Regions from separate parts of the Homo sapiens genome. Here all the other regions are linked to region 1. Evidence: fine-mapped expression QTL. A gene starts in region 1. Each other region holds a variant in brackets. All regions are shown on one strand. Distances are between the middles of the regions. Region 1 holds the start of HEXA (hexosaminidase subunit alpha). Region 2 overlaps HEXA (hexosaminidase subunit alpha). Region 3 has its middle 7.6 kb from the start of NR2E3. Region 4 overlaps HEXA (hexosaminidase subunit alpha). Region 5 has its middle 3.3 kb from the start of PARP6.

What was found. PIP is the estimated chance that this variant, and not a neighbour inherited with it, causes the effect.
Region 2: its variant is fine-mapped to the expression of HEXA in whole blood (TOPMed, PIP 0.94).
Region 3: its variant is fine-mapped to the expression of HEXA in putamen (GTEx, PIP 0.98).
Region 4: its variant is fine-mapped to the expression of HEXA in lung (TOPMed, PIP above 0.99).
Region 5: its variant is fine-mapped to the expression of HEXA in whole blood (TOPMed, PIP 0.94).

Annotation. Positions count from the first base shown.
Region 1 is chr15:72,373,453-72,378,178 of GRCh38, reverse strand. HEXA (hexosaminidase subunit alpha) reads left to right here and starts at 2,165. Exons shown (of 14, transcript NM_000520.6): 1 at 2,165-2,459. The coding sequence starts at 2,207. HEXA-AS1 (HEXA antisense RNA 1) reads right to left here and starts at 2,066. Exons shown (of 1, transcript NR_027262.1): 1 at 1-2,066. RefSeq lists enhancers at 1,406-1,455, 1,786-1,925, 1,817-2,373, 2,374-2,929.
Region 2 is chr15:72,341,283-72,346,008 of GRCh38, reverse strand. It overlaps HEXA (hexosaminidase subunit alpha), which reads left to right. Exons shown (of 14, transcript NM_000520.6): 13 at 459-563; 14 at 1,869-4,726. The coding sequence ends at 1,932. Among named protein-coding and RNA genes, the nearest start is that of CELF6, 23 kb to the right of the region's middle. RefSeq lists an enhancer at 3,152-3,651. The variant G/A (reference allele first, on the strand shown) is at 2,008.
Region 3 is chr15:71,800,638-71,805,363 of GRCh38, reverse strand. No RefSeq gene overlaps it. Among named protein-coding and RNA genes, the nearest start is that of NR2E3, 7.6 kb to the left of the region's middle. RefSeq lists an enhancer at 530-599 and a silencer at 2,320-2,614. The variant C/T (reference allele first, on the strand shown) is at 2,627.
Region 4 is chr15:72,353,543-72,358,268 of GRCh38, reverse strand. It overlaps HEXA (hexosaminidase subunit alpha), which reads left to right. Exons shown (of 14, transcript NM_000520.6): 2 at 1,652-1,744; 3 at 2,645-2,710; 4 at 4,532-4,578. Among named protein-coding and RNA genes, the nearest start is that of HEXA, 20 kb to the left of the region's middle. The variant T/C (reference allele first, on the strand shown) is at 3,169.
Region 5 is chr15:72,273,476-72,278,146 of GRCh38, reverse strand. No RefSeq gene overlaps it. Among named protein-coding and RNA genes, the nearest start is that of PARP6, 3.3 kb to the right of the region's middle. The variant T/A (reference allele first, on the strand shown) is at 2,615.

The DNA.
Region 1 (4,726 bases):
AATAATCAAATGGCTCTTTTCCTGGACCCTCTATTCCGTTCCATCTATTTGTCTGCCATTATGCCAAAACCCCACTCTAGTGTATAGTAAGGGGGGATATTTTGGAAGATCAACAAATTTATCTTGTGTAACTTACTTTTATGTATGCATAAGAATATTTGGTTTAAAAATCTGGTTAAGTCTAAAAGAGCTCTTTCAGTAATAATTAAATAACTGAATCCCTGTAATCCACCATGCTCAGCCCCATTAGTAATTTTTATAGCGTCTTTATTTGGATCTAGCTCTTTCATCTTGTGTAACTCTTTTAAGTAAATGACTCCTCCCTTCTGGTACAGGTTGAATATCCATAAAAGGGTGCCTTGGCATGTGCTCAGTCCTGAAATTCTACTTTGATCTACTGCTCTCATCTTTGAAACTGCTCTAAACACTCCCCCAAATTATTGATCCTGTGGGCCTGATTATGAACTTGGCTCTTCTGACAATACTTCTCAAATCCTGTACCTTTGGTAACATCTCTCCTGACTGGCAGAGTACCCAGACACTTAATTAATGCTGATGAAAATTAAGATTTAAGCAAAGAAGAAATTGGTGTAAGAATGCAAGCCTTAGGATCTGAAACTTGATGACTGTGGGATCTAATTTCTGCTTCTTTTGCTACAAGCTCTGTTTTTGAATAATCAACTTTCAAAGACAAATTGCTTGATGAATCTCTGTATTGTCAGAATGTTTCTTTGATTTCCCATCAAAGCCATGTATGTGTAACTAGTAATTAGGTACCTACGACCTGAATATAAATTATCATTATTTCAGTAGCCCTTTATTTGTTTTTGAGAAAGGGTTTCACTATACTGCCCAGGCTAAACTTGAACTCCTTGGTTCAAGTGATCCTGCCGCCTCAGCCTCCTGAATAGCTGGGAGTAGCTGGGACTACAGGGATGTGTTATCATGCCCAGTGAAAGCCCTTTATTTTTAAAAGTTCATTTTCCTGATCTTTACATGTATTTTAATACTAAAATTAAATTTAAAAATTTTAAAAAGTACCTACTAACCAAATAATGCCACCCAATAACAATAGCATTATTTGTATTATGTTCTGGTAATATAGTGGTGAACAAGGAAGACAGGGTCTCTGATAACTGTGGAATTCTCCTTGATCACTTCTCAAGCCTCTCTTCCGGATACTATTTCTTGGATCTACAGCTGTCTTCCTTCCCCACTTCTGTAGTTCAGTCTCTCATTATTCTCTACCTCCAATAAAAAGGGGCCTCCTAACTGGTTTCTTATGCAACTACTCAACATGGTATTTCTAAAATGCAGATCTTTCGGGATGATTTTCAATTGCTCAGAGAATAAATTCCTTGACTTTCTACGTAAGGCCCTGCAGGACCAGGCCCCTGTCATTATCTCTGAGCACTCTCCATCTTGCACCCAAAGCCCCAGCAATATCTTACTGCTTTCAGTAAATACACACCGGGCTATGTGGGGTTTTGTCTGGGGAAAGGGGATGTGAGTTGTAACTAAGAGATTTATAGTCAATCTTGAAGGGAAGAGCTCATATTGGAGGCAATGGAATGCCTCAAGCTGGCTCTGAAAGTACACATTTTTTCCAGTCATAAGTAGATCACATTTGTGTGATCTTGTGATCCTCTCTCTAGCAGAGCCGTGCAGACTACCTACTTCCGGCCCTTTCTTGCCCCACGAAATTTCACATCACAACGACTTGTGGTTTTAATCCTCCGTTTTTCTGCTTCTGAAGTTACTTCAGCCTGGCAAGTCCTTTACCTCCCCGTAGGCCTGGCGAGCTGCATCACAACATTCAAGATTCACCCTAGAGCCATCTGGGAAACTTTCTTCTCCAGGTCGCCCTGCGTCCTCGCCTCCCCACCCCGTTCTTCTCGAGTCGGGTGAGCTGTCTAGTTCCATCACGGCCGGCACGGCCGCAGGGGTGGCCGGTTATTTACTGCTCTACTGGGCCCGTGAACAGTCTGGCGAGCCGAGCAGTTGCCGACGCCCGGCACAATCCGCTGCACGTAGCAGGAGCCTCAGGTCCAGGCCGGAAGTGAAAGGGCAGGGTGTGGGTCCTCCTGGGGTCGCAGGCGCAGAGCCGCCTCTGGTCACGTGATTCGCCGATAAGTCACGGGGGCGCCGCTCACCTGACCAGGGTCTCACGTGGCCAGCCCCCTCCGAGAGGGGAGACCAGCGGGCCATGACAAGCTCCAGGCTTTGGTTTTCGCTGCTGCTGGCGGCAGCGTTCGCAGGACGGGCGACGGCCCTCTGGCCCTGGCCTCAGAACTTCCAAACCTCCGACCAGCGCTACGTCCTTTACCCGAACAACTTTCAATTCCAGTACGATGTCAGCTCGGCCGCGCAGCCCGGCTGCTCAGTCCTCGACGAGGCCTTCCAGCGCTATCGTGACCTGCTTTTCGGTTCCGGGTCTTGGCCCCGTCCTTACCTCACAGGTGAGTCGGACTTGTCCCGCCCTGTTCCTGGGCCCTGAGAGTGCCTGCCTGGGGACAGTTCCCCCAGGGCTCCAGAGACGCCCTATGGGCTTTTGTCCAGCCCTCTGATCACAGGCACTCCACTTCCTCCTCGAGCTGCATTAGGTTTTCATCCAAAGATAACTACTATAGGACTACGGTTCAATCAGGAGATTAATTTATGGAAAATACTGTGCCAGCAGAAATCTAAGGTGATCCTTCTGACCGTGTTCAAGCTAGCCAGGGTCCTAGTGAGACTGTGAGCAAGGGCTGAGTAGAGACCAGAGAAAACACTCAAAATTGGGGAGACATAATACAAGAACTATGCAAAGTTACATACAAGTTTCTGGCACATAGAATGTTTGGCGGGCGGATCACGAGGTCAGGAGTTCGAGACCAGCCCGGCCAACATAGTGAAACCCCGTCTCTACCAAAAACACAAAAAATTAGCCAGGCGTGGCGGCGCGCGCCTGTAGTCCCAGCTACTCGGGATGCTGAGGCAGGAGAATCGGTTGAACCCATGAGGTGGAGGTTGTGGTGAGCTGAGATCGCGCCACTGCACTCCAGCCTGGGCAACAGAGCAAGACTCCCTCTCAGAAAAACAACCCCCCCCCCCAAACAAAACAAAACAAAACAAAAAAAGTGTAAATTGTGAAAGAAATCATAGAACATAAGGAAGTGAGTTTCCAGCGGCCACTTGGAATGGGATGGTAGATGTAATTAGCCGGGACTGAAAAGAGGGTATTCCAGGCAGGAAGAAGGGCTTGAGCAGAGGCACAAAGAATTATGATTGAGTTCAAAGTTCAGGTCTAGTGGATGTGATGAGTGGGGGCTGGGGATTGAGGAGGGATGAGGGTGGGGAAAATGTGGGGTTGAAGAGTCAAGAGCGCTTTAGACATTGGTTTCACATAAAATGGAAGGGGCTAACAGTTTTCTTTTAGGCAGCTATGTAATCAGTACTGAAAATTGTATTTGAGGATAATTATTCCACAGCACATTTGTAAGTCGAGCCAACAATGTAAAGGAATACAATTCTGCTGCATGGGTTCAAAATTTAGAAGTTTCTTGATAATCTGGAATCTAGCTCTTTGGTTATATTGTATAGATGTTATGGGGGTGGGAGCCACATTTACGGTTAAGTCTTGTAGTAATATTTTATATGATGTTTCAAGTGTGTTTAAATTACTTTCACAAAAGTTATCATTTGATATATAGAATTAAAAGCATTTAATTATACAGATGACCCTTAGAGAGTGACATTTGATTTGGGGAAAGAAACACAATCTCAGCATCAGGGTAGTCCTTAACTGGTAAAATGCATTAAGCTGGAGAGGATAAGAGGCCTGCTGTTGAGTGTGGTAGATCACATTTTCCTCTGAATCCTTCATGACAAATAATAGAGTGCCTTACCCAAGATTGGCACTCAGAATATGTTGATTTTGGTTTAGAAGAGTTTGAGCCTGGTTTATGGAAAAAAAAATCCGTCTAACTGGTATATGTCAATCCCAGTGCTGGGCACTCTGAAGGTTACAAGAAAAGTCTTAAGACCTAGGCCTAGGCTCTATAGTTCAATTGCGAAAATATGAAACAGAGGGAGGTACACAGTGAATTATAAGATTCTCAAAAGCTTTATAGGTTGTTTCCTACTATTGTATACATGAGAATAATTCCTTTCCTTTTTTTTTTTTTTTTTGAGACGGAGTCTCGCTTTATCACTCAGCCTACACTGAGGCTGAGTGCAGTGATACGATCTTGGCTCACTGCAGCCTCCGCCTCCTGGGTTCAAGCGATTCTCCTGCCTCAGCCTCCCGAGTAGGTGGGACTACACGTGCTTGCCACCACGCCCAGCTAATTTTTGTATTTTTAGTAGAGATGGGGTTTCACCATGTTGGCCAGGCTGGTCTCAAACTCCTGGCCTCAAGTGATCCACCCACCTCAGCCTCCCAAAGTGCTGAGATTACAGGCATGAGCCACCGCGCCATACCTAATTCCTATACTTCTAAATTAGGCCTTCACCTCCATTGCTATAGCACCATAGTTTAATCAAGTAGATAGAAATGGAGAGATTGTAAGATAATGGAATACTATAAATTCCCTAACAAAAGAGATTTAGAGCCAGATAAATTCAATAAGATGTTTATTTCCATATATTACCTTCCTGTAAGTTCATTAGCTTTATTAGTTGAGGGTTCTTGTCCATTGAGAGAAAATGAAAACTGGGTTGGGTGAACATTACCAAAGACTTAAAA
Region 2 (4,726 bases), 32 kb after region 1:
TAACCTTACTTCCCAGAGAGATAATGAGGCCTGGAGAACATAGGTGAGTTGCTCAAGACCCAGCACAAGCATCCATGATTCCTGTAATAAGGCTTCCCTCTGCTGTTTTCACTGCAGCCTTACCAAGTATGGTTGGGTGTGCAAAGTTTACATTTTAAGGACCTCTGCTGCTGCCACTGTCATTGTGGTTAATGATGGCTTTAAGGTTTATTCTTATTCCCATATCTTTGAGAGAGGAAGAGAGTGGGATTGCTACCCACATTTTAATGAAGGTGGAGCTGAGCCGTAGAACTCTCTGGGAGCCATCCAACCTGGCTGTGGCTCATAACAAGGTATTGATCACTTCCTTTGGCCTGAGTGAGTCCAGGGTGCCTAGACAAGAGGTAGCAGCCTGTGGATGTCCAGCACCTTTGCAGGGAATACAGGGCCCAATCTGGCACATGCCCCTTTTCCTCCAGGCCCAGAGCAGGGGCTGTTGCCGAAAGGCTGTGGAGCAACAAGTTGACATCTGACCTGACATTTGCCTATGAACGTTTGTCACACTTCCGCTGTGAATTGCTGAGGTAAGCAAGCTGTGGGGCCTTCGCAAGGCGGAGCAGGCCAGATCCAGGGCTGGGGAACCCCTTAGAGAGAGGAAGACAATAATTAACAATAGCTAACACTTACAGAGGCTTATAGTCAGCCCTCATCCACGGATTCAACCAACTGCGATAAAAAGTATTCAGGAAAAAAAAAATACAACAAAAAATGGTACAAATAAAAAATACTGTATAACAACTATTTACATAGCATTTATATTGTATTAGGTATAAGTAATCTAAGATCATTTCAAGTATATGGGAAGTTGTACATTGGTTATATGCAAATACTATGTCATTTTTATATAAGGGACTTGAGCATCCTTGGATTTTGGTATCCACGGGGGTCCTGAAACAAATCCCCTGTGGATACTGAGGGACAACTGTATTTTGTGGCAAACACTGTGCTAAGTTTGTTACAAATATTGTCTCATTTAGTCTTCACCACAGCCCCATGAGACAGGTGCATTTTAGAGATAGACACTGAAGCACAGAGTTCAGGACCTTGCCCAAAGTCACTAAGAAGCAGGATTTGAACCAGGCTGACTTACAGGATGTCATGACACCTTTGCCTCTGTCAGGGATGTGCCTGTGTAAGATAGTCATTTCCCTGATTCCTTCGTTGGCTAGGTCTTGAGTACTTGGGGGACATAGCCTAGTGCAGAGCAGAGTCCTGGGCTGAGAGTCAAGCATGATGGTGTCTAAGCCTCAATTATGTCATTCACTGGGTAACTTCCAGCTGGTTCTCTAAGCATGTTGCTTACTTGGATGATAAGGGAAGCATGCCTAGAGGTCCCCTAAGGAGATTGGTCAGGTTATAGACTGAGACCCAAGGACAGGATTTCGCATCCATGTTCATGGACAGGACAGCACCTAAGTCCCCCAGTGCCACCATATTTACAGCATTTTAGAGTCAGGAACAGAGGGCTAAGTAGACCAAGAGCATTGGCTGCCTTTCAGACATCCATCTATATTCTAAAGGGATTGAGTTATTTGGGGTTAGGGTACAGAGATGGGCAGGATATAAATAGATGTCGCCAACGTTTCTGGATCTCCAAGACCTGTATCAGAATCACCTGAGGCACCTGTTCAGCTTGCAGATTCTTGCCAATACTTTGCCCCACCCCAGGTGAGAATCTCTGGAATTGAGATTCCCAGGTGCATTTGGTGTACAGTGACAGTTTGAGAGTCACCGAAATGGGGAAGGAGAGACTGTTGACTGGTGTGAAAAGTGTTGCTGGGGCCCCTTCTGAGGGGCTTATCTTGCCATTTCTTCATGTCCTCTTGCAGGCGAGGTGTCCAGGCCCAACCCCTCAATGTAGGCTTCTGTGAGCAGGAGTTTGAACAGACCTGAGCCCCAGGCACCGAGGAGGGTGCTGGCTGTAGGTGAATGGTAGTGGAGCCAGGCTTCCACTGCATCCTGGCCAGG[G/A]GACGGAGCCCCTTGCCTTCGTGCCCCTTGCCTGCGTGCCCCTGTGCTTGGAGAGAAAGGGGCCGGTGCTGGCGCTCGCATTCAATAAAGAGTAATGTGGCATTTTTCTATAATAAACATGGATTACCTGTGTTTAAAAAAAAAAGTGTGAATGGCGTTAGGGTAAGGGCACAGCCAGGCTGGAGTCAGTGTCTGCCCCTGAGGTCTTTTAAGTTGAGGGCTGGGAATGAAACCTATAGCCTTTGTGCTGTTCTGCCTTGCCTGTGAGCTATGTCACTCCCCTCCCACTCCTGACCATATTCCAGACACCTGCCCTAATCCTCAGCCTGCTCACTTCACTTCTGCATTATATCTCCAAGGCGTTGGTATATGGAAAAAGATGTAGGGGCTTGGAGGTGTTCTGGACAGTGGGGAGGGCTCCAGACCCAACCTGGTCACAGAAGAGCCTCTCCCCCATGCATACTCATCCACCTCCCTCCCCTAGAGCTATTCTCCTTTGGGTTTCTTGCTGCTTCAATTTTATACAACCATTATTTAAATATTATTAAACACATATTGTTCTCTAGGCACTGTGGTAGTGGGTTTTTTTGTTGTTTTTGTTTTTGAGACTGTCTCAAAAACTCTGTCGCCCAGGCTGACAGTGCAGTGGCACAATCTTGGCTCACTGCAGCCTCTGCCTCCTGGGTTCAAGCGATTCTCGTGCATCAGCCTCCTGAGTAACTGGAATTAATAGGCACGTGCCACCATGTCCATCTAATTCATATATATATATTTTTTTTTTCTGAGACGGAGTCTCACTGTCACACAGGCTGGAGTGCAGTGGCACGATCTCGACTCACTGCAAGCTCCACCTCCTGGGTTCACGCCATTCTCCTGCCTCAGCCTCCCCAGTAGCTGGGACTACAGGCGCCCGCCACCACGCCCGGCTAATTTTTTGTATTTTTAGTAGAGATGGGGTTTCTCCGTGTTAGCCAGGATGGTCTCGATCTCCTGACCTCGTGATCCGCCCGCCTTGGCCTCCCAAAGTGCTGGGATTACAGGCGTGAGCCACCGCGCCCGGCCGAATTCATCTATTTTTAGTAGAGATGGGGTTTCACTATATTGGCCAGGCTGGTCTTGAACTCATGACCTCAGATGTTCACTTGTCTTGGCCTCCCAAAGTGCTGGGATTAGAGGCGTGAGCCACCGCACGCGGGCCTGTGGTAAATTGTTGAATTTGAAGGACTCAGAGGCCCTGGTCAATTCCAAAATAACGTAGGCGACTTCCATCCCCCTCCTCCCAACCATTTTCAGCCCAAAGCATCTTCGCAGGGAATGGATGGCTGCGCGGAGGTGGGCGGTGGCTCTGGAGAGGGTCTTTGCAGGTGTGATTTTCTCTAGAAGGAAATGTCTCGTCGTGGACCCAGACTGCCCCCTCCTGGTTTCAGATGCAGAAGTGATACTGTAAGCCAGAGGCGGGGGCAGTAATGCATCGCAGCCATTTTAGGTGAGGATTTCCTTGGCGGTTATTTGTTAAGTTCTTTGGCTGGGCCCTGGGCTGGGGTAACAATGGACAGGTTCCAGGCATTTTTTTCAGAAAGCTTCCAGTGTAGTGGATACAGAAACTTCAGGAAGGCAGGGCTGAGAAGGATCTGAGTAAAACTCGGTCCTTCAACACCATCCTTCAGCCCCTGGGTCATGTTCCTTCGAGGTCCTGGTGGGAGGTAGACAAGCCTAGCCTTGTGCTGTTCCTGTAAGGACAGGGTGGGCATTTTCTACCAACAGAATTCTTGGAATTTTCACACAGCCCAGCCTAGCCAAGTCCAGGGCTATAGCCCAGATACACAAGTTAAGGTCCCAGCACTGGCACCCACCACAGGAGCCCCCTTACCTCTATTACCCAGAAGCTTGTAGGAGGGGTGGTCCGCAGACAAGGACCCTGCACAGGTGCGACCCTGCTTCCCTCCTGGTCATAACTTTCATGTTACTATTGCTTGGGATAATGTTAAGTAAAAATAGCAGACACTGAGTTTTAAGTCTCAAGTGGATGAAGGCAGAGATCGTGATACACTTGAGTTAAAGCAGTAGGGTTCTGTCATTTTCTATTCCTGTTGTAAACATTTTCTTTAATGTTATTATTTTTACCACTAAACTAACGTGGCCTGGTCACGACTTTCATTGGTAAAGTGTGCTGTTCCTCACCCTCCACCGTTGCTCCTTTGGTCCACTGATCATAAGAGCATTTACCTGAAGGTCGTCAGACCTCGAATGCCAACAGGTCAACTGCAGTGGCCTGCAGTTACCACCCAGTCTGTTCCAATGAACAGAATCGCTGTTGCCCCAACTCATCTCCCTTCACCTAGGCTGTAAATTGAAAGTCCCACCCCTGAGCGGAACACAGGCCATCTTGTGTGCTGTGCACCACCAGGGGGTGGGGAAGTTTCCAGACTGACTTCCTGGCTCCAGTCATCCTAGGAAAAGAGTTCTCCAGTCGCTCCCCACCCCCACCCCTTCCCATTCCAGGAGTCTATTAAGGAGGCAAAGCAGGCCTAACGGGTATCAAAGCAAAGGAGTGAATGGAGACTGGGAGAGTCTTCAACCTCTCCTCTCCTTGGTAGGAGCTGAGGCTGCATGCCAGGTACCTTCCCTTCGAGGAATCTAATAAAGCTAGGTCACTGGTGTTTTCAGGTGCTTCTCAAAGGATTGCCGTAGGGGTAGGATATCAGGATGTGGGAGCACA
Region 3 (4,726 bases), 570 kb after region 1:
TCATTTACATGGAAATATGTCCACAATGTCTCAACTTCAAAGCCACTTACAAAACAGACATGGATAGTTTGATTTCATGTGGCCCAGGGGAATTTCTGGCTGAAGATCATGGGATGCTTGTCTCCTTGGCAGGACCTAAATGAATCAATGGTTTTCTTTCTAGAGCAGGGAGTGGAAGGTGCAGGGCTCCGAGAGGCAGACACCAGCGGGAATGTTTCTCAATAAAGCTTCTTTCTTTTCTTTTCAAGATAACATTTAGAAATGATCAGATATTCCCCTGCACAGTTTTCCCAGCCCTTGACTAGTAAAGTCTTTTTCCCCTTGAACTCTTCTAAAGGTCTAAGCAGGGCTGGCGGGGGCCCTGCCCTGTCCTGGGACAGGCAGACAAAAAGCAGCCTGTCTGGAACATGCACCATCTGTTGCTCCACCCTGGGTCACCTCTTCCTCCTCTGTACCCGAGATGACTGACAGGAAAGACCTCCAGGTTAGCTTGGCTTGACTCCCAAGCACCATGCGAGGTGGCTGTCTCAGTTCTGTTGCAGAGCTGTCACCAGAGGCCACCGCAGACATTCTCCCCACAGGCAAATATTTCTGTTTCATTTGAATGTTTAATAATACACATGTATTACAGCTCTAACCTGGATAAAATACAGTTCTTTGTATTTTAAAAAAAGAGACTAATTTGAAATCAATATTACCTATACTAATAATGATAGGAAATATTTATAAAGAAATTCAGTCTTTATGTGTGAAAATGAGAAGCTCCCCATGCTTTCATTTTCTCTCCCTCTTCACCCAAGAGGAGGACCTAAATCTCTAGCGGCTGCTCTGGCCTGAGCCTCCGCTGCTTGGAACAGCTGCAGCCCCCAGTGCAGAGGCCGCCCGTCCACCTGCTGCACCAGGTGTAAACCCTTTAGTTGCTGGGCCATGGGCAGATCTGGAGACCCTGGGAGGGGCCAGAACACTGGGGGCAGGCTGGGGCAGGAAGCTATTTGAAAACCAGTATAGAACTATTTTTAAACGTTTAACAACAGGCACAACCACACCAGGGTACACTAGCTGACTGACCAGTTCATTTATGCTGGTGGTGAGGACACCATGGAGGAACAGCAGTCAGGGCTGTGTCCAAAAAGTTATCTGGCTCTCAGGCTCAGAGTATGCATTCTTTTTTCATTTTCTTTTCTTTTCTTTTTTTTTTTTTTGAGACAGGATTTCGGTCTGTCACCCAGGCTGGGGTGCAGTGTGGCGTGATCATGGCTCACTGCAGCCTCGACCTTCTGGGCCCAAGCAATCCTTCTGCCTCAACCTCCTGAGTAGGTGGGACCACAGGTGTGTGCCACCACACCCGGCTAATTTTTAATTTTTTTGTAGAGATGGGGGTCTCCCTATGTTGCTCAGGTTGGTCTCGAACCCCTGGGCTCAAGCGATCCTTCTGCGTTGGTCTCCAAAGTGCTGGGATTACAGGGCGTAAGTCAGTGTGCTTGGCCTAGAATTATAATCAAGATAAAATAAAGCTTTTTTGTCTTTTTAAAAGAGACGGGTTAATTTTTAAAAAATACGAGCTGTAATAATAATGGAAAATATTTATTAAGAAATTTTATGTGCCAGACACAGTTCTAAGCGTTTATATGTGTAAACTCATTTAATCCTCACGACAACACAATCAGATAAGCATTGTCATTATTATCCTTGTCTATAAGCAGGCGCCTGTAGTCCCAGCTACTCGGGAGGCTGAGGCAGGAGAATCACTTTAACCCAGGAGGCGGAGGTTGCAGTGAGCCAAAATCATGCCATTGCACTCCAGCCTGGGCAACAGAGCAAGACTCTGTCTCAGAAACAAACAAACAAAAAACAAAACAAAAACTTCTGTGGAAGTCGAATTATTTTGAAGATAAAATATTTAAAAACAATATATACAATTAGAATATATTAAGGGGTTATTAGTTTGTTATGACAATGGTATTGTGGATATGTTTAATTAAAAAATAATCCTGCTAGAGATATACTCTGAAGTATTTACAGAAGTGAGTCAATGTCTTGGATTTGCTTTTAAAGACTGTTTTTTTTTTTGTTGTTGTTTTTTTTTAATAAACGAATGAATGAAAAGAGGGAGTAGATGAACTGAGGACTGAAGGTGATAGTTATTGATATGGGTGATGGGTACATGGGTGTCATGGACCTTTTATCTCTAATTGCTTTTGTGATTGAAATGTTAGGTAATAAGTTTAAAATATGTATACACATACAAGCTGCCTACACGAACAATGAAACAACAGGTGCCACTGATGACTTTAGACGCTCTACAGGCTCCTCAGCTTGGACCCTCCCCACCCTACTCTGTCTCCACTGCCCATCTTCGCCTTGCCTTGCAGCTTTGGAGGCTCTAAACTGAACCAGGTGACGCGCGCGGCAGGAAACCCCCGGTGCTACTGGGGAACTGCCGGGCCAGTCGGTGGACCAGCGCCCCCTCCTGGAAGGACAAAAAGCGCAGCGAGAGGGGCCGGTGCCACCTTGCGCTTCCTCTGACCTCGAGTGCTGGCTCTCTCCTTCGCGCTTCTGGCTATACCCGGTTCTGGCTCGGCTCGGCCTGTTCTTTCCCTCTTTCTCCAACCGACTCCTCCTCACA[C/T]TTCAAGACCAGCTCCAAGGTCTCTCCTGAGAGCACGCACTCTATCATCGCTCCTCACATCCCAGGCCCTATCAGAAACAATCTTACGCCCTTTCTTTGCAGTCACCCGGCTCCTCCAATGTGCACAGAAGCTTTGTGAGACCAGGGTCTTGTCGATCTTGTTCAACGGCATGACACGTAGAAGGAGTCTGATAATTATTTGTTGACCGCCTGAGTGGACGTAAGCTTGCCCTAGTCCTGGCAGCCTGCGGCGGCTTCGGCTTTCTGCCCTGCCCGGGGCCCTGTGGGCATCTCTCGGGCATCCTCCCGGGACCGGGTCCCAGCAATTGCAGGTCCCAATGGTGTCCGGAGGCCCGGAGTTGGTTCTTTCCGGTGGGTTCTTTGTCTCGCTGGCTTCAAGAATGAAGCTGCGGACCTTCCCGGTGAGTGTTAAAGCTCTTAAAGGTGGCACAGACCCAAAGAGTGAGCAGCAGCAAGATTTACTGTGAAAAGCGAATGAACAAAGACTCCACTGCACCAAACTGGACTCCCACTGGTTACCAGGGCTGGCTGGGGTGGCCAGCTTTTATTCCCTAATTTGTCCCCGCCCATGTGCTGCTGATTGGTCCATTTTGCTGAGCACTGATTTGGTCCATTTTACAGTGTGCTGATTGGTCCATTTTACAGAGTACTGATTGGTCCATTTTATAGTGTGCTGATTGGGGCATTTTACAATCCTCTTGTAAGACAAAAAAGTTCTCCAAGTCCCCACCTGACCCAGAAGTCCAGCTGGCTTCACTTCTCATCAGCAGTCGCGGGGCCACACACCCTTATCCTATGAGGCCGTTTATTCTGCCATGAGAGGTGTAAAATGTGTTTTAATAAAAGGCATTTACCTGGCCAGGACCTAAACTGATTGAAGCAATAAGCTACTCGGAAGGGAATGCTATTGTCCTAGGGGGCTTTCCAGGCTGCCACAATGATGTTCCATTACCCAGAGAAGCAGCATCCCCCTGGCACAAGACAGTGGTTTCCAGGGCGTGATGACTGAAGGTGCTGGGAAGGGTGGGTCCTTCTGCAGTCTCTACCGGGACTCTCTCTGCTTTCATCTGTTTCATAGTTGGTCAAATTTTGTTTGAAGAAGTTTTTTTCTCTTCCTAAAGAGTGACAAGTGGGTAGCATTGAGCCTCAGGTATGAGACCGTGCGTATTAGCTGGGTGGGCTCGGCCAAGTCTCTTCACCTCTCTGGACTGTTACTATGAGGAAATCATGGAGCTAATAGTGGAGCTTCACGTCTGGGTGAAGGCAGAGGACCGAATCAGAGGACCTCTCAAGTTCTCTCAGATCTGATTTATTGTACCCAGAATCACAAAATAGCAGGTAGTTGGATCCACTTGGAATACCCTGAAAGGCCACAAGATGGAGGTGTTACTCCATGAGAAAAGTTTGGCCTGCTCTGCACTGTTCCATCCCCCAATTTGTAGCCTAAGAGACTTGAGAATTTCTTCTTTGGAATTGTAGCAAAGTAAACACTTCACCAATACGCACTTGCATCTTCAGGCAGAGGATTTAAGCTCTTACTAAAGAACCCCAGCGGTTCCCTATAGCGTTTCATGCACAACTTTTTTTTTTAAATCAAAGCACCAAAGAGGGGCTGAGCGACAGTCAGGAGACTATCTGACGCAGAGGTGGCATCCCCGCCCCCTGGGAGTATCACCCCATTGTGTCCTGATACACTGGCTCATGTGCGTCAGAGCTCCTGACATATCGCAAACACCCAGAAAACAGATGTTGAGTGGAGTGGATGCTGGATTTATTTTACTGAATCACGTACTTGGCATTAAAATATACGGTGTCCCCTACAGAGGGTTTTCCATGTTCCCATAGGAACTGTTGAGATTTTTTTTTTTTTTTTGAGACAGAGTCTCTCTCTGTCGCCCAGGCTGGAGTGCAATGGTGCAATCTCTGCTCACTGTAACCTCCACCTCCCGGGTTCAAGCAATTCTCCTGCCTCAGCCTCTCAAGTAGCTGGGATTACAGGCGCCTGCCACCACGCCTGGCTATTTTTTTGTATTTTTAGTAGAGACAGGGTTACACCGTGTTGGCCAGGATGGTCTCGAT
Region 4 (4,726 bases), 20 kb after region 1:
CTGCCTGGGTAGATATGCAGATGAATTCTCCACACAATGATATTGGGGCTCCATGATGTGTGGGGTTGGGAGTGGGGGCAAGAAGTCAGAGGATGGGGTATAGTTTTTCCTCACCCTTGCTCCTAGGTTAAGTCCTCATTGGTCTCCCTGTAGAGTCTCCTGTGGAGATGGGTTTGTAGCCTGTCTGCTTGGATGGCCCTGCAGATTCTGCCTTGAGTGTGGTCTTTGCCTTGAAGGTCTGCTTGTCCTTTTGTGTTGTAACAATGTAGTTTTAGGGTTCAAGTATGGAGCTGTGAATTGACCTGGCCCAGAGTTGCCTCAGATTCCCTCCTCTTTGCAGAATGTAGGCAGGTATTGGTGTGGGGATCCAGGGTATTTACTGGTAAGGGAAAGAATGTGTTGTTCATGATGGTAGGAAAGGCCCCCTTATTGGCTTGCTTCTTGGCAGACCAAAGAGCTGAGATACAGCCATGTGGTAGTGCTCAAGAGGTCTGAGCAGGCTTCCGTGAGATGATCTGAGCGCTTGGATTCCTTCTGCCTGGAGATGGGTAACATTTGAGATTCCAGTTTGGTTCTGAATTCTCTCATTGCCTTCTGCCAGGCCATCCTATCCCTGACATTGTAGTGCCATAAGAAGTCATGGATGTTGTGATGCCAGTGGGATGAATATGGCTCCAGGAAAGAATAGAATAGAGAGGGGTTCATTAAGTTAAGGCTTGGGGCTATAACACCAGAGCCACCCTGAAAATCACAGGGAAGAACCAGCAGGAGGGTGAGAAGAGACAGTGTATTCATATTTTGGCTTTGGCATTTTTTCTGCATAGACAAGGGTCTGTAAAGCTATATTAGATACTATGTTGGTTCAACCCTCCACTATTAGGGTAAAATCTACCTTGGATAGAGAACCTGTTTGGGAAGAGGAAGGAAGGAAGCAAGATGGGTGGGTGACCCTGATCTTCTCTGAGGTATCAGTTGCATCATCTCAGGCCTCCTCTGCCTGATCCTTCTGTCATCTGCTCCATTAGCTCCTAGGCTTTTGCAAAACTGGAAACCCTTCATCTGGAGCCCTCAAGAGCAGTACTACTTAATATGCCAATCTTCAATGAGATAAGAAGCATATGTACCAGAATGTAAGACTGATCTCTTCATCAAGAAAATCTTGTATGAAAAAATGTTAGAACTAGACAGTGTGTTTACTCTGACATAATTGATTTACATTCAGGCTTCATATAAGTTTTCTATATAGTGACCAGCCAGTAACACAGTTTGCAAATTGGCAGCTAATCTGCAGACCATACTTGGAGTAGCAGTGCTCTAGAGCTGCCTTTCATTCAGAAGCAGTTGTTGAGGTCATGGAGTTGTTTGTTTGGTACAGGCCAAGGGCAGTCAGAAATATAGAGCCCTGGTTAAGAAGAGCTGTCACCCAGAGCATTCAGACATGGGTCAGGGCAGCTACTGAGGAGAAGAGGGGCACAACGAGAGTGAGACAGCTGAACAGATGATCAGGCACTGCCTATGCCAAGGGTAAATGCCATGTCCTCCCTTTCCTTTACCACAGGCGTGTGAGCTGAGGGACTAGAGCTAGGGTCTTGGTTTTGCCTGTTGCTTCTAATGGCAGGTTGGCCGCACCAAGCTTACCCTGTCTTCCTAGGGAAACGGCATACACTGGAGAAGAATGTGTTGGTTGTCTCTGTAGTCACACCTGGATGTAACCAGCTTCCTACTTTGGAGTCAGTGGAGAATTGTAAGTACCATCCTGTTCCCTGTCTTAGAAGAGCAAACACTTGTCTGAAGCTGTAACTCTGGATGGCCTGGCCTAAACTGCTGATGCTCGGCCTGGAGTCCCCCTTGACCCTGGGGACCGAGGGTCACCAAGTGCTGAGAGCCATGGAAGATGAGTTTTTCCTATGCAGAAACTTAACCAGTGCTAAAGGTTGGCTGTGGAACATCACACTGGCTCTTCACTGAGTCCCACAGGACTTCTACCTGGTGTACTGAATACATTTCTATTTTAGGAAAGTGTATACTTTGCTACTTTTCTCTAATAGACCCTACACTGGGGAAAGCAGGGGTTCTGGTCACTTATACTGAGATGAAGTTAAGTCATTAGTCCAGTGACTGCCTCCTGTCTTCCCTGAGCAGCATTTGGGGACTTCTCAGTCTCCAAAGTGAACAGTTGAGTTTGGCTCCTTCCTCACATTCTTGGAGGAAGTAGCTGAAGCATAGAGGAAGGGGAAAGGAGGGTGATTACAAAGGCATTGGGAGCATCGCGTGCTGCACTCACCCCTGCAGGCATCCCTGTTCCCTTTGCCAGGAGAAGACTTCTTTCATCTTTCTGCTGTGGAAACTGACCCATGAGGTAGGTGGTGCTTTGTACAGACCTCCACTCCAGCCTGACTCTTGCTGTACATCATCATCCAGGGTCTACAGAGTCACTGTGGTGACCACCCTCCCACTCTGGCCCCAGACCAGGCCATCCTACAGCTGTCTTGCTCTGGGGACATCTCCTCATTGAAAGATTTTTTAAAATATATGGTCTTACTGTTTTTTTTTTTTAGTCCAGTGATTTATATAGAATATCTGGTCTATAATCTGAGAATAGAAAACCTTAACCAACTAAATGAGTTCATTTCTGTCATTTCAGATACCCTGACCATAAATGATGACCAGTGTTTACTCCTCTCTGAGACTGTCTGGGGAGCTCTCCGAGGTAACAAATTGGGGCTGATTAAAAGAGAGAGAGAAAGGATGATGTGGGAAGGTTGGTGTTGGTGGAGTGCAGTGGCCCAGTCCCTGCTCACTGCAACCTCTGCCTCCTAGGCTCAAGCAATCTTCCCTCTTTAGCCTCCCAAGTAGCTGGGATTACAGGTGCCTGCCACCATGCCCAGCTAATTCTTGTATTTTTAGTAGAGATGGGATTTCACCATATTGCCCAGGCCAGTCTTGAACTCCTGAGTTCAAGTGATCCACCCATCTCGGCCTCCCAAAGTTCTGGGATTACAGGTGTGTGCCACCGCGCCCAGCCAGGAAGCTTTTTTTATGGGAACAATTGGCGTGTTTTCCCGTCTCTGTGGAATTGTCCCTGGAAGTTGACAGGTTTTACCCTGTGCAGCATCAGCAACTGCTGCTGCCCTAGTCAGGGGCTCTGGGAAGCAGTAGGAGAGTCTG[T/C]GGGCTGATGTTCTAGGTGCCAGCAGGGGACAGGTAGCTGGGGGCAGGGGGAATGATGCTACCACAGACACTGTCTGTCCAGCTCTTGCTAAAGACATGTAATTGGAAAGGTTTTTTTAAAAGGAAAACTATAACAAAAGAAATAGATACATGCAAAAAAAAAGATAAATAGTAGTGAAATATTTAGAACTACATTATTTCTGGAGAAAATGAGTTTACTGGCTAAACTATTGGCCCTTGCCCTTCTTCTGGGTTTACTGAGAAGGCATTTGGTGCCTAGATACAGACTTAGCCAAATATCTCTCCCACTTTTGGTAAACCCTCTGCTGGTGAATGATGTGGGAAACTCTCTCGGAATTCCACACCTTGCTTTAGTTTGTCTTCATTCCCTTGCTCCACTTCTATGCTTGGAGCAACAGCATGCTGCCTCCCCTTCCTGCCCTCTTGTACCTTTCATGCAGGTGCTGATGGTGAGTCAGGCTAGAGGTAAGGGAGGACCTGGAACTCCAGAATGCTGGGTGTCAGAGTCAGAGTGGGGAGAAGCCAAAACAGTACACTAGCAGTCTGCTCAAATCAGGTGCTGAGTGACTGCTGAGGTCTCATGGATTCTTTCACTTTGAAACTGGGGACTCTGATAATTTTCATGGGGCTTCTGCAGGGTTTCCAGAAGAGGGGCCCCAGCTGTTGAGAACATACAATACTCTGGGTTCAACATACCTGTGTGTGGGCCTTGCTAGACTCTAGGAGACAGTGTCAGTGGACTAGGGGAGTCCTTCTGGGGCAGTTGCTGTCCACCACACCTCAGCTCCCTATAGCTGGGTCTCTTCTTAGACTCTGAAGAGGAAGAGTGGATGATTTTTTTTATCTTCTAGGTCCAGCCATGAACCCAGGCTCCTTGGAAACCCAAGCTTATGATCACTTTCTCACAATTTATTCTGGGACCCCTTTTCTCAGCTCTCTTAGCTCCTGATAGGGGTTATCCATGAAAAGTCCAACTCTTGCAGGCTGAGTTGTCTCTGTGTCTGTCCTCATGAGTATATGTCTTGGCCTCTCTTCTCAATATTCTTGTGAAGGCACAGGAAATATAGATAAGAGGTATGTGGGTTTTGAAGGTTAGTATGTTGTAAGGAAGGGCACTAAAACCCTTACTCTGACATCTCCCAAAATGAAATACAGAAGTAAAGATGGATAGTGGCTTCCTAATATCCCCTTTTCATCAGTGTTAAAAATCGTCAAGCCTACACTACATCCATTTTCCCTGTGTACCCAAATGTTATGCTCTGCTACATTGAGAACCTTCCAAATAGAGACATCTCTTTTTCCACTCCCTGAGTCTTTACTCTGCCTCTCTACATCTTCCTAGGTCTGGAGACTTTTAGCCAGCTTGTTTGGAAATCTGCTGAGGGCACAGTAAGTGTGGACCCTCAAAAAGGGCTCCTTTTTCATCTCTGGGGTTGGATCCCAATATTGAGAATCCTAGAAAAATCTTGTTTTGCCTTAGGATCCTGGTGGCTTGAGATAGCCCCAGTAGAAATGGAAGAGGAGATGTGAGTGGAAA
Region 5 (4,671 bases), 100 kb after region 1:
TGGTGCGATCTCAGCTCACTGCAACCTCCACCTCCCAGGTTCAAGTGGTTCTCCTGCCTTAGCCTCCTGAGTAGCTGGGATTACAGGTGTCTGCCACCATGCCCGGCTAATTTTTGTATTTTTAGTAGAGACGGGGTTTCACCATGTTGGCCAGGCTGGTCTCGAAGCCTAACCTCAAGTGATCCACCCGCCTTGGCCTCCCAAAGTGTTAGGATTACAAGCATGAGCCACTGGGCCCAGCCTATTGAAGGGTTTTAATAGAGGAGTGACATGATCAGATTTGAGTTTTAGAAAGATCCCCTAAGCAGCTAAGTGGAGAATAGATTGCAGGAGTAGATACTGGATAAGGAGTCTATTAGGAGGCGAATGCGATAGTTCTGGTAGGGAGGAATAGGAATATAAAGGAGGGATTGATTTAAGATGTATTAATTTGCTCGCACTTGTAATCCTAGCACTTTGGGAGGTCGAGGTGGGAGGATAACTTTAGGCCAGGAGTTTGAGACCAGCCTGGGCCACATATTGAGACCCTGTCTACTACTCCCCAGGAGGCTGAGGCTCATTCCACAGGCTTTTTAGTTTCTTGCATTTTCTGCTCAGCACCTAAGATATCCCTTGGGAAAAGCCAGACCCAGGCGTGTGGCCTGTTCTGCCTTCTGAGTCTCTGTGCTTTTAGGCAGCTAGAGGGCAGGAGGCCAGAGTTTGGAAAGAAAGAAAAAGAAGAAGAAGATGTATTAAGATGTAAAATTTAGAGTTTATGAGGTAAAATTGGTTCCATTTAAATAAGGATGGGAGAAGTCTAAGATGCTTTCTTCTCAGGGTTCAGTCTGAATAAGTCATAGGTGAGATTTACTAAGTTAGGAACATGAAAGAAATACAGTGAGAAGATGTTTGCCTATGTGACATCCAAGTGGAGCTGTCCAAAAGACAACTTGACCAAAGTTAACTTGAAACTCAAGAAGTACAGGATGGAAGCCAGGCGCGGTGGCTCACGCCTGTAATCCCAGCACTTTGGGAGGCCGAGGTGGGTGGATCACAAGGTCAAGAGATTGAGACCATCCTGGCCAATGTGGTGAAACCCCGTCTCTACTAAAAATACAAAAATTAGCCAGGCGTGGTGGCGTGCATCTGTAGTCTCAGCTACTCAGGAGGCTGAGGCAGGAGAATCGCTTGAACCTGGGAGGCAGAGGTTGCAGTGAGCCAAGATCACGCCACCACACTCCAGCCTGGCAACAGAGCGAGACTCCGTCAAAAAAAAAAAAAAAAGAAGAAGAAGTACAGGATGGAAATATAGATTTGGGAGTTCCAGTCTATAACTGTGTGTCACTCAGGTGGATTTAAATGAGACTTTTGTTGAAAGGGCACTAGGTGGGTCACGGGATTGCCAGGCAAAAGACCCAAGCTTGGAAAATAGGCAGGAACAATGAGAGGCCAGTCCACCACAGCACAGGCCAAATTCAGATGCCAGAACCAGCTCCACAAGACCACTGCTGCTGTCATCATTATTGGACATGGGATGTCACCACTACCAGTACCCACACCATGAAAGTCCCTGGGCATGGGGTAAAGCTGACCCTGCTCTCCTGTCACCATTGCCACTGGCATGAATTCTCTATGATTCTATTTCTCTGAGTCACTCCAGAAACTACATTTCTGGAAGATGCTTGGCCAGGCCAAGGTCACATGCCTCTGTCTTAGCTAGAGAGCTGGGAAAGCAAAGATTCAACCTTTTTAGTGTCTGTCATGAAAGATAGGCTCTGCTTACTTCTAAAACTTGTAACATAAGAAGGAGATTCTGTTTCTGGGCAACCCCAAATTATCAAGATCTCCTTCAAGTGGCCATGGAGGCCACAGGGAAGAGTAATAGGAGAAATGGATGTGGGCTGAACTGCTTTTCTACTTAAGTAGGGAATGAAGGAAAGGGAGTATAATAAGGATACTGTGAAGGAGTCATATGAGGTGTAGCAAGAAACTGGAAGAGTGTAGCCCATAAGAGCCAACAGAGGAAAGGGTTGCAGGGGCAGGATGATCAACAATGCCAAATGACACCATGCAGTCAACTGCAGGGGCAAGATGATTGACAATGCCAAATGACACCATGCAGTCAACTGCAGGGGCAAGATGATTGACAATGCCAAATGACACCATGCAGTCAACTGCAGGGGCAAGATGATTGACAATGCCAAATGACACCATGCAGTCAACTGCAGGGGCAAGATGATTGACAATGCCAAATGACACCATGCAGTCAACTGCAGGGGCAAGATGATTGACAATGCCAAATGACACTGTGTGGTCATATAAATGAAGCCTGAAAATTCCCAATGGATTTGTCCATTTGTAAGTCATGTGTCACTTTGGTGAAAGTATTTTCAGTAGAAATTTTGGGGAGAGGTCAGATGACACCAGATTTAAGGAACAACTGAAGACAAGAAAGTGGAGAGGGGGAGTATAGGCTACTCCTAGAAGTTTGGTTAAAGGCAAGAAAAATCAGTAGCATGGCATATAGGATTCAAATTGGATTTTCTTTTTACGGTTGGGCTAGTTGATCAAGCTTATATACTGAGATCAACGAGTAGGGGAGAGGAAAAAGTTGAATATAAATGAAAGAGAGAGG[T/A]AAGGAGCAAATTTCCCAAGGAGGCAAAAAGGAATGAAATACAGATCACAGTGAAAGGACTAACTTTGTATTTGAAGAGAGCCCTCTCCACTTCTGAAACAGAAAGGATGGGAGAGATTCAAATGTTTGGAGGGGACAGAAAATTGAGGCAGTTCCCCCGTGGCCTTTTATTTATTTATTTATTTTTAAAGAGATGGGGAGTCTCGCTCCATTGCTGAGGCTGGAGTGCAGTGGCATAACCACAGTTCACTGTAGCCTTGAACTCCTGGGCTCCAGAGATCCTCCTGCCTCAGCCACCCAAGTACCTGGCACCCAGAGCCTTTATTTTTTCTGTGAAGCAGAATGGGGGATGGTGGGAGAGGCTGACATGGGAAGGGTTGCTGGGTACACTGAGGACTCTGCTGAGGAGACAATGAATTTGTAGGAGCTCTGTACTGAGTGCACATTAAGTTAGCTTAAGCCATTTATTCTAGATAAAAACTGACTCCTAGTCCCTCAAGATCAGAGGGCCTCAGAAAGTGCCTTGGGCAGGGTATAGTGGCTCACACCTGTAATCCCAGTACTTTGGGAGGACAAGATGGAGGACTGCTTGGGCCCAGGAGTTCAAGATCAGCCTGGGCAACATAGGGAGACCCCATCTCTGCAAAAAAAAATTAATTAGCCAGATATGTTAGTGCATGCTTAAGCCTTGGAGGCTGCAGTAAGCTATGATCACACCACTGTACTCCAGCCTGAGTAACACAGTGAGACCCTGTCTCAAAAAAAAAAAAAAAAAAAAAAGAAGGAAGGAAGGGAGGGGTGCCTGGGAAGCTGCCAGAAAGCAGAGAGTAGTCTCACCATTTCTGGTCTCTGCCTCTCCATGCTTCATTCTGTGTCCCCAGATGGTCTTTTTCCTTTTCTCATTCATCATAGTAGGTGGGAGGTAGATGTACCATAGCTCCTAAGTCTATGTCTCTTTTGCTTAAGAAACCAGTCCAGTTAGAATCATAATCTGTCAGCTCTAATCCCAGATTTTCAGGAGAACATCTGTTTAACACAGCTTAGACCAGGAATCCACTCACAGTTCAATAAACTGCAGCTAAAGTGCTAGAGGTCACACAAGACGAACATGGCCCTGGGGCCTGTGGATCCATAGTGTGGGTGTGGAAACGATAATTCCCACAGAATAGGGTTCATGGGCTAGACTAACCTAAATGGTGTCCACTCACAAGCTTAAGTGTGCAGGATTGGATGACTTCCTTTATCCTGGTTTAGGATGGGAGAGTAGAGAAGGTAGATAGCTGGCATGACCCAGGAGTGTGATTTTTACAGAGTAAGTGCAAGCATATTAACAAAGATGTGATTAAAATGACTGACCAAGGATGTGGACTGGGTAGGAAAAGAGGTGAAGCCTGGAAGATACTGGTAAACTATGAGGTGGCTGAGATTCATGATGAATAGAAGAGCTAGTGGTGGTATGCTGGAAAGGGGGAATCCTAAAGGTTATTGAATACTGGAGTTGGACTTGTCACTCATGGGCACAGTGCTTATGTTCAAACACTCCCATACATACTTGGTTCTCAAAAGCTATTACGGGGCCCTTGATGGTGAGTTGTTTTAGAGAGCAGGCCTGACTCCTTCCCCTACCACTCTGAACTTCCGCACTCTGAAACCGAGGTTATATTGATCCCTCACTTTTTTCAGTTACTATAAGCAGTAGATGTAACAAACTCACACCGAGACGGTGTTGTGGCCCAGGCTGAGTGGCAAGGTGAGCAGAGGGGGACATCAAAAGGGGAAGGAGTTAGAAAGGAGAGGCTGAGAATGTGCAAATGTAAATCAACCAACAACAAAAAGTTAACTGGGAAACTTCTGAGGCCAGCTTAGGAGGGATAGACATGACGTGTTTATATCATTCAGGGCCAAAGCCTTCTTTGTGTGTACTGTGTCCAGCTACAAAGAGGGAGTGAGGAAACAGAGTAGGTCTAAGATAAGCCTTTTCCCATTAGTGTTGATGGAAAAGAGGGTCACGTGGAAGCCCCAAGACTAATAAGGATGAAGGAGATCTGGCCATGTCT